2 separate regions of the Homo sapiens genome follow, and region 2 is linked to region 1. The links come from fine-mapping of genetic effects on gene expression. Tissue or cell type: ileum. Region 1 holds a variant in brackets; the other region holds the start of a gene. All regions are shown on one strand. Distances are between the middles of the regions.

Region 1 (8,077 bases):
CCTCCACTTACTATTCTTTCCTTGGTTTCTGCTAGACACAGAGGACTCTGAAGCCCTGAAGGCAGAGCCTCAAGATGGAAGGATCTGAGTGTCTGAATCCCAGGGGAAGGAAAACCAACCCCAATTAGGAACATTAGCATTTAAAATACATACAATGTATTCAACTGCAGAAATGTTGGAGCTGATGTTTACAGGTTCTACCACTAACCTAACTAATATAGTATGTCACATAGCCATAGGCACTATGGAGAAAAATAACACATAGATGAGTAATGACAAATCTGATGGGTGGGGAGAGCTGCTAATCTAAACAAAGTGGTCAAAGAAGACCTCACTGATCCAATGACATGAGCAGAGACTGGAAGGAAGTGAGGAAGCAGGCCAAGTGAAAACTGTTGGGTAAAACTTTGCAGAAAGAAGGAACAGTGAACCTGTGGGTCCTGAGAAGGAAACATGCCTGCTATGTCTAAGGAACATCAAAGAGGCCAGGACGCCTGGAGTGCAGTGAACAATGAGATGGCTTATAGGAGATGAGGTCAGAGAGCAAACAGGTGTCTCATCTCCCAGTGCCTTCTAGGCCATCGTAAGATCTCTGGATGTTATTCTGAATGAGATGGAATGTTGGTGGGGGATTTTGAGCAGAAGAATGACAACATATTCCTATTTACCTTATAAGAAGATTACTGTTGATAGGCTGGGCGCGGTGGCTCACGCCTGTAATCCCAGCATTTTGGGAGGCCGATGGGGGCAGATCACGAGGTCAACAGATCGAGACCATCCTGGCCAACATGGTGAAACCCTGTCTCTACTAAAAATGCAAAAAAAAAATTAGCCGGGCGTGGTGGCATGTGCCTGTAGTCCCAGCTACCTGGGAGGGCTGTGGCAGAAGAATCACTTGAACCCAGGAAGTGGAGGTTGCAGTGAGCTGAGATCGCTCCACTGCACTCCAGCCCGGAGACAGAGTGAGACTCTGTCTCAAAAAAAAAAAAAAAAAAAAAAAAGATTACTGTTGATATTGAGTTGAGACTATGCTGTGCAGGGGTGGAGATGCAAGAGTGGAAGTAGTTAAGAAGCTGATATAATAATCCAGGAAGCGGAACTAGTGGCTTGGACTAGGGTGTTGGCAATAGAGATGACAAAAATGGTCAGATTTGGGGCATTTATTGAGTATGAAGATGACAGGGTTTGGTGATGGATTAGATGTGAGGGTGGGAAAATGTGAAGAACAGGCTTGAAGGTAAATGATAAGCAGTTCTAAGTTTGAGGTACCTTTCAGAGATCCAAATGGAAACATCAGGTAGACAGATTTTTGAGCCTAGAGTTCAGTGAAGAGATCCAGGCTAGAAAAGAAAGCAGGGAAAAGGAAGTAATCAGTGTATTATGATATTTAAATCTATGAGACTAGGTAAGATCATCTAAGAAATAAATACACATACAGAAAGGACAGGTCCAGGGACTAAGCCCTGAGACCCTCTGTTATCATTTGGAGGCTGGTGAGAAGAGGATAGAGCAAAGGAGACTGAGGAAGAGGAGCCCATGAAAAAGAAGAAACATTCGGAGAATTTTGGTCTCCGACGGAAATAAAGAAAGTGTTTCAAGGAAGGAGAATGATCAATTATATCGAATATTGTTAATAGGTAAGTAAAATGAAGATTGGATTTCCTGTGGGATTTAACAACATACAGGTCTTGGTTAGTGAAAAGAAAAATTTCAGGGAAGTGATTGGGGAAGTAACTGATTAGAATAGGTTTAAGAAAGAATGGAAATAAGCTCAACTAAAACTGACAACGACACATCTTTAGTGAAGTTTTGCTATAACTGGGAGTAAGGTAACAAGGATGTCTCTAGGTATGTGGGGTCAAGAGAGAGTTGATTTTTTTTTTAAGATAGGAGATATTGCAATATATTTCAGGTTGATGGAAATAATTTCATAGAGGGGGAAATTAATGATGGAGGAAAGGACCAGAAAAAGACTACTGGAGCCATGTCCTTGAAGAGGGGAAAGACAATATGCACAGGTAAAGAAGATGGTTTTTGATAGGAGCAGGGAGAGCTCATGCGTAGCAGTGGGAGGGAACGTAGAGTCTATGGGCTCAGATGCAGGCTTGTGGAAAGATGCAGTGTGAGACAGTGTGGAGTCTCTTGCGGCTGCTTCTATTTTCTCATTGACCTCAGAGGCTAAGCTGTCATCTGAGAGTGAGGGTGCCGATCTTGGTGTTTTGAGGAGAGAGTAGAAAGTGTAGAATGGTTTAGGAGCATGGGGAAATGAATGGACTAGGAAAGTGTTGTAGGATGGCCTGGCTGCCCTGAGAGCTCCCTTGCATCTAGTGGTCCCAAATAAGACCAGAGCACATGGATATGTCCCCTTGTCCAACCAAAGGCAGCTGCTCAAGCATAAGGCAGAGTAGACAGGCTGCAGCAAATCAGAGTTGAGGGTTATTGAGTCTTTAAGATAAAGTTAGAGACGGGTGAGGACATTGAGGGTCTTTACCAGAAAATGATGTTAATGATGACTCATGGGATTTAATTTGGGCAACTAAGGTTACAAAGGAAGTGAGACACAGTGAGAGGCTGGAGGGTTTGAGGAATTCCTGGCCCTGATATGATAAAATAATTATTCAAGTCAAGGTACTAGAGGCCATAATCTGGAAGCATGTGATCTGGGCTGGAGGGTGGGTGGACTGGCAGTGAGGCAGCCACATCAGATGACTGACCATTCCCTGAAGCTCAAGGCATTTCAAACTTACTTTGAAATTTACTCTTGCTATTCCTTTCATTGGGATAATTTTGAATCTCTTTTTTGGTTCTTACTCATTCCTCAAGGCCTAGGTCAGATGATACCTCCTCAGGCAGCCTCCCCTGATCCTCCAAATCAAAATTAATTGCCTTCTCTACTGTGCTCACATAATGTGTCTTACTCACTTTTAATATGAAGCTCATCACACTGTATCATCATCTGTTTACTAGTCCTGCTCTCCACAGCTCACGATTTTGAAGAGGACAAGAGAACATTCCGCTCACCTCCTGGCACATTCCCAGTGCATGGCCAAGAGGCTGGCTCACAGCTGACTCATCACCACCCCCTCCCCAGGGGCTGTAGCCTCTACTGCCCTCCTTTAATCCA[T/C]TTTCCAGACTGCAGTGAAAGTGATTTCCTGAAAAGTATAAATTAGATCATGTTATCCCTCTGCGTTGAACCCTTAATAGACTTTCCAATTGCTCTTCCGATGAAGACCAAATTCTTTCCATGGGATACGTTGCCCTGCAGGATTCGGCTTGCATTTGCCTCTCTGGCTTCACTGCGCACCAGTCTCCCTCCGCGCCTTCCTCTCCAGCTACCCTAGCCTCCTAGGACTTCCAAAGTGCAGTGTTTTCCCTGAAACCAGGTCTTGTCGAGTGTCCTCCCTGCAATCAGAGTCTTCTCAAGTGCATTTCCCTCAGTCTGGTGCTCTTCTTCCTCTTCAGATAGCAAATCAGATACCACCTCCTCAGGGATGCTTTCACTGAGCCCCACGCTGGGTGCAGACGCCTTATTACACACGCGTGAAGGACCCTAACCTTTGTCACACCGCTTAGTAGCACGCATAATTACATGGATCACATGTGTGGTTGTTTAGATTCATGCTTGCTCCCATGCTAGTCTGGGAGCCCCGTGAGGACAATGACCACAGGGCTTTTGGTCTTTACTGAATTCCCAGCACCCAACGCAGTGCCTGACTCATGAAAGCACTTCATAAATATTTCCTCACTGAACGTATTAAATTAATAAATAGACGGGTCTAATGTTTTACTTAATATTCATAAAATATAACAAATTTGGTTCCCCAAGTACTTATAGTTCCTGTACCAAAATAGAATGCAATCAAATCCATCACACATCACACTCACACACACACACCAGGTTTAATGAGTTTTCACACAAGTCTTTAAAAAATATAACCAGACATGTCACACTGTGATTTGTAACTTACAAGCTAGGCCTAATTATTAAAATGAAGATGACGTCTATGTGGCTAAACCAAGTGCCATCCCCACGTGAATGTGAGTTATCAGGAAACCTAGTTGCTCCACATATTTCAGAGCACACCTCAGGGCCCGAATCAATGCTCATTTGGCTGGGTGCGGTGGCTCATGCCTGAAATCCCAGTACTTTGGGAGGCCGAGGCAGGCAGATCACCTGAGGTCAGGATGTCGAGACCAGCCTGGCCAATATGGTGAAACCTCGTCTCTACTAAAAAGACAAAGATTAGCTGGGCATAGTGGCAGGCGCCTGTAATCCTAGCTACTTGGGAGGCTGAGGCAGGAGAATCGCTTGAGCCCAGGATGTAGGGGTTGCAGTAAGCTGAGATCACATCATTGCAGCACTCCAGCCTGGGCGACAGAGCGAGACTCCGTCCCCAGAAAAAAAAAAAAAAATGCCCATTAGAGTTCCTCAACATAAAAGATGGCCAATATAATCAAAGGCAAGTCTATGTTTTGGGAGTGGATTCAATGAACAGTCATTCCCTAAGCCTGTCCCATAAAGTGGAAAGTGGGCTCTACTTGTCACTTTCCATATCTTAACAGAATTTTCCAGACTATAAACACTAGCATGGTAAGAAAAAATATATCGTCTCATTAGGGAAAATACCCATTTGCTCACTTTCTCTCTCCTATATACCAGAAGTGTAAATAATAGGCATATATAAGTGTGCAAAATAGGCAAAATAATAGTCATATATAACAATATATTTATATTTCAATTTTTAGTTGTTTTTTAATCAAGAAATGCAATAAGAATACAGAAATCCCATAAATTGTTTTCCCATTTAAAAATAATTCTGGCCAGGTGCAGTGGCTCACATCTGTAATCCCAGCACTTTGGGAGGCTGAAGCGGGTGGATCACGAGGTCAGGAGTTCAAGACCAGCCTGGCCAAGATGGTGAAACCCCGTCTCTACTAAAAATGCAAAAAATTAGCCAGGCATGGCGGCACACGCCTGTAATCCCAGCTACTCAGGAGGCTGAGGCAGAGATTTGCTTGAACTCGGGAGGCAGAGGTTGCAGTGAGCCGAGATCGCACCACTGTACTCCAGCCTGGGCGACAGAGTGAGACTCCATCTCAAAAAAAAAAAAAAAAAAAAAAAAAAAAAAAAATCCTACCAACTACTTTGAAGAAATGTTTTAACTTTCATAATAGAAATTGTTAAACAAAAGTAAAGATAGCCTAATGAACCTCCTTCACCTGCCACCAGGCTTCAGTAATTGTCAACATTCTGCCAGTATTCTTTTCTCAGAAGAAATTTAAGAAGGGTGGAACCACAGGTCAAATTCAAGGAGTTGCTCAGCAGAGTTGCCCAAGACAATCTCCCCCCTCATTTTTCTTCATCTCCTCCACCAGCCCTTCTCTGACCCAACCAGGGATCAACTGCTTTTTGTGAACCAGATGAACTGTGCTTTGAACCATCACCATGGCAAATAGAAGAGGGTTTCTCATAACCCTGGTTAGGACATCTCCAAAGTCATGTTACTCTCTAGCACAAGACTCGTATCAGAAGCATCTTGGGATGACTCTGACATAAATATATTCAAGATCAATTTTAGAAATTGACGTACTACTCTGAGTCTGATACAGACATCCCTGTGACTCATAATTTCTTTTTTTGCCCAGGCTGCTTTATCAATACATGGAAAATGTAGTTCAGTCGCAGCTGCTAAAATTTACAAATATACTTCTATTTTGTGATGCTGTGTTTGAACTGATGTTGGTAATGTTACTGTTTTTATGTTCATGGGCAGTCTAATAATTTTTATATTTTGACTCATGTTAGAAATTACTCAACTCTGACTATTATCTTGATTTTTCCATCATTTTTGGTCAAGCATATTAACAATTTGGCTTGACTAAAGGAAGCTAGAAATGAATATAAGAAACACCAAGCCTTAGAGTAACTCAAGAAGGAAATAGACTTTCTGCATTGTTCCAAGGGAAAAGAGGAGACATTGGAACTTATGTTGAACTTGGTCTAGTAACCACAATAAAAGTGGTTACTCTGCTCTGAACTTGGAGTCCACAGCACCCATGGCTGGACTTTCTACCCTGAATTCAGTCCCTTAATGACTGAGCTTGCTGGCAGGCACCCAGTGTCTCAGCTGAAGATTACACCTCAGACCCTAAACTCTCCTAGCTCCCTAATTTCTCATTTTGGTTAAGTATGCCTGCAGAGACGACTTGCACTAATTCCCACTTAGACATACCCAGATTTGAGACTACATCCACTTTTCTTAACATACACATGTCCTTACCCCCCCTTAAAAAATGCTGACCTAGTTTAAGTTGCCATCCAAAATTTTTCTTATGTAAATCCCTACTACTACACACAACTGAGCCTTTATCACCTCTTAAAGTCCTCCAGGACTTTGCAGATATAGTCCATCTCATAAACTCCTTAGTCTTAGATAACCTAAGGCTCAGAACATCCTACGTCCTAATGAGGGTATCTCCAACTTCTGCTCATTTGTTCATTCAACCACTGGTAACATGTTCAAGGCACTAGAAGCTGTTATCAACCCACATACTTACAGTCCTGTAGAGGCAGAGACTTTGACACAGAAGGATGATACCTTGAGAAGTGTTAGCTCTTTTCCACCTGACTTTCCATTAATGACATGCCATAAACCTCCTCTTGACACCTAGCTCCAGCATGCTTCTTGCGGCTTTCTGAGTGAATCTTGGATAACATTGCTTTGCCCAGGAAGGTAACCTCACAAATAGGCTGTTCCTATTTCCACACATCTCAAATTCATCTAGTATGAAGCTTCAGAAATGACACCTGACATGGCAGATGTTCCTCTAAGCATCCCCATGGATGTCATAAACCCTCACCCCCAACCCTTCAGTCTCTCAGAGGTTCTAACACTTGCTTCATGCTAGTGAACTCAGGCATGTTCTTCATCTCTCTGAACCTCAAGAAGCAAATAACATTTTCCAGTGCACGTGGGAGAGGCAGGGGATGATGAATGAAGCAGCAGGCGCAGAGACCCCCACTGAGTGGCAGAGGTACTGTGAGGCTGCCTTTCTGACAATAACCCAGGTCTAGTGGGACTGGAGCCCCCAACAAAAACCGAGGGCAGATCCTAGAGGAGCACCATTCTTTATCTTCTTCTCAAGATTGGGAGGGACACGCTGTTCACACTAAACTCTGCATCTGGAATTTGGGCCTAGACATGCCACAAAGCCTTCTCCTCTTTCATGGCTCTGCTTCTTTCCAGACCACAGCAGCAATTGTCTCAAGAAACTCTGGCCATCCCTGTTGAGGGACCCAGGCAACAAGGCAAGTTTCTGGTTTTTTGGAGCTTCCAAGCCCTCGCTGAAACCATCTCTACCACCTTAAAAGCTTTAGCTGGCACGCTTAGGAAAGTCTTACGAAGTACATAGAGATTTCTTGGATCATTTTCAATTACTAAAGGAAGGTACCAATTGTTAAAGAAAACAAAAAATTACCCACAATGACTGTGAAGTCTTTTTATTCCCCACTCTAGGTAATTTGTTCTGATTACCACCGTTCCAAAAGACAAGATTACACACCAGTGAAGCAAAGAGATAAAAGGGGGAAATCTGTTCCCTGCTGAGGCCGTATCAGAGCTCAACCCGTGTTTGGAAGCAAAGGCAATTTTTTTTTCAGCCCTAATGAAGCCTTGTTAACTATGAACCCTGGGGCTGAACTGATCTAGTGAGAGGAGTTATTTGGTGGGTGGTGGAGGGGGTTTAACAGCGGATTGGTACATTCAGAGATTATTATCATTCTTATCTTTCTTCTTAAAGCAAAAGAACTTAAATATGTACTAAAAACTGTTCTCACTGGGGTATAGAAAGGAATTGGAAGAACAAAATTGAAGTCCATCATCTCCTTCAGACAGAAATATATATGACCCACATTTGTAAGAGACAGACTACGCCTTGCTTCTTTCTCCCCCCTATGTTGCCAGTTCTCTTTGTCAGCAACTCTCTTGTCCTACTGGGATAACGTTTTAACTGTGGTACATAGGTTAGAAGCACACTATTTGTTTACAAGGGGATAAATGGTTGTTGCAATTACCGT
Region 2 (8,077 bases), 930 kb before region 1:
TTAGAAATGAAGAAAAAAGAGAATGGGCAGTTTTGCCAATTTGCCAGCCTGTGTCTCCTGACCAAATGATGAGGAGTAAGAGAAAAGGATTAACATTTAAATTTAAAGGCATATTTTTCCCCTGAGAAAGATTATGTAATGGCATATGAAGTCAGTTCAAAGGAAGCCTATGATGTTTTCCTTCTCATAAAAAAGGAAGCAAATTATTCCATCCAAGTGCAACTGAATCAAATTTGAACTTCCTGTAAATGTATCAGCTGATAAACCAGGATTTAAGTTCAAGGGTACATTCCATGCCTAATCTTCATTTTACAGCTTTCAGAGATAAAATTTCCTTAGCACTAAAATCTTTCAAAGATAGTCTCTCTTGCAAAACAAATTGTTAGAAGTGAGCAGCAAATTGGCCAGATGCCTCTGGGGCATAAATGTTTCTTAAAAGTCAGGTAAGAACTTTTAGAAATGATCTCATACTTTCAAATCACGAGTTTTCTATTTCGTGCTTTGGAACAGAAATGGTCAACTTACCAAAAGGGTTAATACAGCTTCTCAAAAGTGCTTGTCTTCTCACAGAATATAGTTTATATTTTGGGAGAATTTGGCACAGCTTAAGTTACAGCTTAAATGACTTGCTCAGTAGAATCCAACAAGAAGTCATTTCTCCCACCCATTTGTCCCTAAGTGTTTATTAGCAGGGATAGACACAAAATTTTAAAAGAAAAAAAGTATTTTTCATATGAATATTCTCTCTCCAAGACTTCATATCAAGATACATAAGCAACAGTATTCTTCGACTCTTACTCCCAAACTGGAAGCCATCTTTTACAGAATTTTAGAAACACTCCAAAATTTATTATCAGCCCACTAGCCTTTCTCAGCCCAAATGTCTTACTGCAAGATAAATGGACATGGGACTTAATTATTTCTTATATGGCTATGAAGAAAAATAATTGCTAAGCATAAAAACCAGCCTATGACATGAGGCTAGTTTTACATGCTTCCAGAAATTGGTACTTTTAAGTTTCCAACATTGAAAAATATACAGACAACAGAAATCTTTTCAGTGGTACATATTACTATGATTTTTACTATCTCCCCAGACAGCCTGAGCAGTCCATTAACTAAGGTGTAACAGAGACCCAGAGCCAAAAAGAAAAAAAAATGGCTCCAACAAGAAAAATCACAGCTTAATGTATGCAGTAAGGCCATAGTTTGGATTTATAATAATTATCACATTCCAGAGCCCAAATTAATTATTTGTAGTTATTTTGCAGATATCTTAGTAGCTACACACACACACACACACACACACACACATTTCACAAAGTATTGGCCAATGCCCATTTTCACATAGCTCTTTAGTCTAAAAATAACTTTAACTTTCATGTTTTACCAAGACTGAGAAAAGGGAGAGCAAATCAAAGGAAACTAGTTGAGGAATTAGTGAAGAAATTTTTAACAGGCCTGCTGGGTGTTCTCTCACTGCTGTCTTGAACCTCAGATTAAATTATTATACTTTCTGTGTTGTAGTACTGGGTCATTCGTATGTGAAGACAAAGGCAACTTCAACTTGATATTTCTGTCATCCCTGCTGTGGGAAGAGTCCTTTTCCTGGTTTATAACATCAATCATTCTCACAATAAATCTTAGGGTGGATGTGGTCATTTAAATCTCCACCTGCACAAACAACAGAAAATAAGAGAGCTCATAAATCTCTACACTGGTGATTAACAAATTTTGGATCCTCAGCGAAGATATTATGGAAGAGGGGTCGCTAATTCATTAATAAAGACTGATTTGCTGACAACCTGTTTAGTTTACAGCATAGGGGGAAAGCAAACAAGACCCTGCTAGCAAAACAAAACGTTAGAGGTTAGTGAATTCCCAGCTGAGCCTAGGATTAGAGATATGATATCTTAATGTAGGAGAAGCCTTCAGACCCTAAGCCAACCACTCAGAAACCACTCTTACATTTTGCTCCAGCCCCTCAACTTCAATGCCTACCTGCAAGGGAAGAAAACCTGGCAAAGAAATTGTAAGAGAGATTTATGCCTTCAGTCTCCCTGGTTTCATTGCACCAATTTCATCCAATCCCTAGGTTCTGTTTCCCTGTGCTTTTTCTACCTACTTCCCAGGAGACTTTCTTATTCTCTAGGAAAGGTGGTTCGAGCTGGGGTTAAAGATGGAAAAGAACCTTTCTCAAAAGGATAGTCTTGCTTTGTGTTGTGTAATGTCAGCTTCATGTGAGGAACACTGGCACCTAACAGGCTGGAAGAAGACAAAGACAGCAGCATTGAAAGGGACGGTGCATCACAAAAAGTGCCAGGCAAGGTGATGTCTGAGAGCAACAAAGACTCTCAAGGCAATATTAAATGCATTTCTAGAAAAGAAAAAAAAACCGAGGGGAAAGTTTCCATTTATTAGGAAAAGATGATCAACTAACATAATGTTTTCCACACACTCATACTGCCCTCTCATTCCCTACCCACTCCCACTAAGCTGTGTGTGGTTGGGTTTGAGTGTGCAAATCAAGTATGTTTGTGTACACGTAGGCAGTCCTTTGATGTCTTGAAAATGACCAGGTGTAGGTGAAATGTTTTATACTTACTTTTCCATCACCATAAAGATTCTAGGAAGCACTTGTCTTCATTTATCCCGGGGAAGGTGGAAGATCTCGGTAAAGCCTTGGAGTCTTATGAGGTGTTGGCAGGATGCGGTTGATACTCCCTGTATTTTAATTCGTGTTTTCTTGGGAGGAGAGAGGGCATGGAGTGTAGGTGGAAGGCCCAGAAAGAGCCAAACGATCTAGTCGTTTTTCTAAAGTTCTCAGTAACAACCAGTTGTGACGTCTTAAGAGAGAAAGAAGGCCTTTTACAGATGGACAGAACATGCTGCTTCTCGGCCCCGGCCACAGTTGGGAGAAGGTGGCTGGTAAGTACATGATGCAGTTGAGTTGATTTACATTACAAGTTGCAAATCAGGGTCTGTGCATTGAGTTTCCCTCCGGTTGTGAAAGGGGTCTAAGCGCTTTGCTGGGGCCTGGCAGGCCCCTCCCTGGGCTGCAAGGATCCGCCCCTCTATTCCCCAGATAAATTCCTAGTGTCCACCAAATTCCTCAGCGCTCGCTCACCCTCCTCTACGGCCACGACTCTGGGAGTGGGGAAACAGAGAGCCGGTTCCTCTGCTGCAGAAGTCCTCGGGGTTCCTTCTCACAACTCTGCGAAGGGGAAAGGGTTGTGAGACCCAACCAGACCCCAACTCCAGCTCCCAGCAGGAGGTGGCTGCGCCACACTCGGGAGGCCTCTTGGTTTCAGGGTCTCTCTGTCTCTCTCTCACCCTCTTCCTCGCTTTCTCTGTCTCTCTGTCTCTCTCTCTCTCTCTCCCTCGTCCACTCCCCCAAACATGTCCACCGGCTCCCTCAGCGATGTGGAGGACCTTCAAGAGGTGGAGATGTTGGAATGTGACGGGTTGAAAATGGATTCGAACAAGGAATTTGTGACTTCCAACGAGAGCACCGAGGAGAGCTCCAACTGCGAGAATGGGTCTCCCCAGAAGGGCCGCGGCGGCCTGGGCAAGAGGAGGAAGGCGCCCACCAAGAAGAGCCCCCTGAGCGGGGTCAGCCAGGAGGGGAAGCAGGTCCAGCGCAACGCCGCCAACGCGCGAGAGCGGGCCCGCATGCGAGTGCTGAGCAAGGCCTTCTCCAGACTCAAGACCACCCTGCCCTGGGTGCCCCCCGACACCAAGCTCTCCAAGCTGGACACGCTCAGGCTGGCGTCCAGCTACATCGCCCACTTGAGGCAGATCCTGGCTAACGACAAATACGAGAACGGGTACATTCACCCGGTCAACCTGGTGAGTGCTCCCGGGGCTGCAGCTGCAGTCCAGGCGCGCCCGCACTCCCGCCTGCGGTGGGCGCGAGTGCGCGCGGGGCTGGGAGTGGGGGTGTGGGCGCGGCGGTGACTTACACATCTCGACCACCGCGGGCCTAGAGCCTCCAGGGACCGGAGGCGGGCGGTCTAGACACGGCCCTCGCTCTCTGCCCTACCAGCCCCCGGAGCGGGAGTGATTTATGCGAGGGTTTGACGTGGCAGCCCAATTAAAAGTTTGCAAGTGTGTTGAGCTGGCACAGAGGAGGGATCCCCCGCTCCCGCTCCATCGCCATCCTCCCTGGGGTGCAGTGGCTGCTGCGGAACTGAGAACACTGACAAGACGCTGCGAGCGGACAGGCATTTTGTTAATCCTTTTTTCTTCTTTTAGCAGAGAGTGGAACTTGATTTTCCTTTCCTTGTAAATAAAAACACCCAACTCCGTTTCTTTCACAAGCATATTTAGGACCATTGGATAAGGACACATCTATGCCCCCCAAATTGTCCACGTAAGCCCTTAACCGCTTAAATATTCTGTGCTTCTCCTATAAGTGGATTAATATTTTTAAATCCCAGAAGTTCTAGTAATGATCAGCAAAATCAGTAAATCCTCACTAGTATGAGTGTAATAAATACTAAAATAGGTCACTCTCACCCAAGATTTAAGAAATGTTACCTTTTATCTTAAAAAGTAATGCCCATTGAGCCTAATTTTTTAACACAAAAAACTGATAATCATTGAGTCTACTTTTTTCTCAAATGTATTTTACTGTTTAAGAAATATATCTTAATTTTTTTCATTTGATTTTATTTTAAAACTTCTAAGATCTAAAGAAAAACAATAACAACAACTTACTAGGATCTCTGTTTGTATATGATAAGAATGAGAGATTTTTCCTTTTAAAAGGCAAGTCTTATCAGCTAGCACTAGAGCAGTAGTGAGAGGGGTCTGAATTGTCTTCTCACCGAATTGGTTTCTGGAATTGCTGGAGAAGAAGATGCAAACCCACATTTTACCATGAAAAATGTTTTCTCTCCAATTGAAAGTTTGGGGTTTTTCCCCCCCAATGAGTAAATAGCTTTTTAAAATCTCCACCTAAAATGAAAGTGTTGCCTCGAATATTTACAACTGCTACTCTCTTCATCTTTGAATAAGAAACTTAAATGAGCTTTATTATAAAACAGCCCGGAGAAAGGAAGAGAAAGCATACTTTCTCAGTCCAGCATGAAGACGATCTTAAATTAAAAGTCAATGTAGTATAGCATTTTTTTTTCCTTAAGAGGTGGTGATTAATCTAGAAGCTGTAGTCAAAGCCGGTGTTTGCGATGGAAGAAACGAAAGTCGGACTAGGGAAATAGATGGTGATGAAAGGCGATGAAAGCGACAGGGCCCTGAAACCCGACCACCGCCTCAGAAGGAGGCCAGGAGGGCGCTTCGCCCCGAACTCGGTGCCCAGTAGGCACAAGGTCGTTCTGGGCTTCCCGGCTCAGACTGCCAAAGCGTCTGCCTCCAGGCAGTGCCACAGCACCACCCACTCTCCCACTCTCGGCTTGCCCGGGGCTTCCTGCATTGAGTCTCACAAGGAACCCAGTATAAGCCCTTTTGGCTCTCATTCTAAAAGACCACCACCAGCACCACCACCACCTCGAGCTGTGACTTGGCGCCAAAGCAGCTATTTGCTTTATGCAGCCGCAGGGTGCGCTAGGACCGGGAGTAAATTGCAGAGATAACCGGTCTCTCCAGAGCACCGCCTGCCCCCACCGCCCCCCTTCCTTTCATCTCAGGCCCCGAGTCCACCCCACCCCCTCCGCCACGGCCACTTACCTCCTCCACCCTCTTCTTTCCCGCAGACGTGGCCCTTTATGGTGGCCGGGAAACCCGAGAGTGACCTGAAAGAAGTGGTGACCGCGAGCCGCTTATGTGGAACCACCGCGTCCTGACCTTGGAGGTGCGAGTCTGGGAAAGGCGCGCTCCCGGGGGGAGCGGGCCCCGGGAAGGCGACCCCTGCCCTCAGTGCTCTCTGTCTCTGCTTCCCCCTCGCAATGCTCCTCTCTCTGTCCCACCCCGCGAGAACACTTTACAACGACGAGGAGATTCGTTTCCAAACCAGAGGAGATCAATTGTACTTACAAAGATTCCCATCTATTTAACTTTATTAACTTCTACCGTGAATGACTCTGCAAGCCTTGCTGGTCCAAGTGCAATATGTAATTATAAATATATAAATAGATAAGAGCCTATCAATGTATCTTTTGTACAATATGTTGTAAAATGTAGATCATAGGATAGCTGACTTTGACAGTCACATTTATAAAGTAATTCACTTAAAGATATATATTTTTTTCAAACAAGTTTTGCTACTTTTGAAAATAAATCTTTCTTTATATTGCTAAAAGCTCTGATATTTGGAGTGATTTTTAAAAATATTTGGAATAAGAAAGTGGGAAACTATGGGGAAGCTTGATAATGAAAATGGTTCTTTTAAACCTCAATCTAAACTTCTAGAGATAGAAGAAAATTGCATATGAGTTTCATAATGAAGATGCAGATTATGTTTTATACTGAAACCTTAAAAAAGAAATATATCGGTTACTTTTAAGGCTAATAGAAATTATATAACTGAAAACAAAGAATGGGCAGTATTAAAGTTATCCACAGTTATACAGTTCAAGAGTAAAACGCACCAGAAAAAGGAAATCCAATTTTCATGGATTCCACCGTATGACTGCTGACACGGGCGAGAAAGTAAACTCCACCTTTTGTCACCTTCCAGGTGTGAGCATAGCTGCAAACTAGTGAAGAAATAATAGAAGCTATGAAAGATGTAAATTCCATAACCCTTAGGGTGTGTTTCAGGATTTTCAAAGCTCTGCAGCATACATTATCTACATTTCTTATTAATAGTCCATTAATTAATTCTAACAATAAACCCGCATGCCTGCCTTTTGGTTGCTGTTAGCGGGTGCGTTTAGCTCCCGCCACGACTTCCGGCGGACTGGGTTTAATTTAAACATTTTCCAGGCTACGGAACAGCTCCTAAGGGAAGATTAAGTTGAGATAAACAGAGAAGCAAGGCCGAGGAGCCTGCGACCCGGCTCCCTCACTGCCCCAGCGCAGCCCGCGGCGGCCGATGCGCCAGATGCCACCGGGGCTGTTTAATGTTCGGGGTTATGACCGCAGTGTTTACAAGACGTCTTCGGTTATTTATACTGTTATTCCTCGCAGAGAGCCTTGAAACTTCCGCTTCATTTGCTCTTTCTTTTCGATTTTTTACCCTTTTTTCTCGGCTTAGTTTGGTACCTGGAGCGAGAGCTTCTCCGCCCTTCCACCAACCCCACAGGCCGCTTCGCGGGTGGAGCCCTCTGCCTGGCCATGGAGGAAGGATCCCGCTAGGCTGGTCCCGACTGGAGAAGCTGCTCTGCCAGGTGTGCTCTCTGTCAGCAATAGTGACCTCATTACCAAGGGGTGGCGACCACATTACCAAGCGCAATTCCCCATTCTCCAAGGGCTGAGAACTTCGGTGACTTCATCCACCTGTCTATTTGCACATGGAGGACTTTTCAAGATGTCAGGATACCCTTCCATCACCCCACCACCGCCACCCCAACTTGACTTTCAAGAACACATTTCAAGCTCTGGCCAGAGTCCCGTTCCTCAAATTCATGTGTTCTCTCCTTTCTACCAGAGGGATAGAGCCCATGCCTCAACCTATCCAGAGTTCAAATCAAAGAGTCCCCAGTGTGATTCAATTGATTGCCTTTCACGTTTCGCAAATTTTCCAATCTCCCACTCACGTTTTTACAAAACGAATGCTCTAAATTCTGAGGATTCCAGGCAGGCCATCCATAGAGAAATAACTTTTTCTTGCTCATTCCCTTACAACCCCAATCTATACATGGATTTTTAGAAAGTCTTCATGGCTATCTATAGTTCCCTACCAATAATTTGAAGCCTTTGCTTTAGGCAGGAGGCATGTGGCTATGAATAGGGAACACGTAGATTTGACCCTGGTTCTGCATCCAACTAGCTGTTTCTTGAAAGAGCCTGGATCCTCAGTTTTCCCATCTCTGCAAGCAGGGATAACGGTAATGAGAATGATAATAATCATTATATGCAGACCTTCCTCTTTCATCTTACAGAGGCTTAGTGAGGCTCAGATGAGATTATATCTGTAAAATCCCTTGGTAAAGGAAAAGCTCCGTGAAAATGTCAG

What was found. PIP is the estimated chance that this variant, and not a neighbour inherited with it, causes the effect.
Region 2: it holds the start of TARID, and the variant in region 1 is fine-mapped to the expression of TARID in ileum (GTEx, PIP 0.97).

Annotation. Positions count from the first base shown.
Region 1 is chr6:134,813,987-134,822,063 of GRCh38, forward strand. The region is part of intron 2 of LOC101928277 (a long non-coding RNA gene); the gene reads right to left. Among named protein-coding and RNA genes, the nearest start is that of ALDH8A1, 130 kb to the right of the region's middle. The variant T/C (reference allele first, on the strand shown) is at 3,125.
Region 2 is chr6:133,885,999-133,894,075 of GRCh38, forward strand. It overlaps TARID (TCF21 antisense RNA inducing promoter demethylation), which reads right to left and starts at 3,008. Exons shown (of 9, transcript NR_109982.1): 1 at 2,606-3,008. It overlaps TCF21 (transcription factor 21), which reads left to right and starts at 3,115. Exons shown (of 2, transcript NM_003206.4): 1 at 3,115-3,849; 2 at 5,715-6,259. The coding sequence starts at 3,400. The coding sequence ends at 5,804. RefSeq lists enhancers at 2,663-3,576, 4,828-5,592, 6,478-7,086.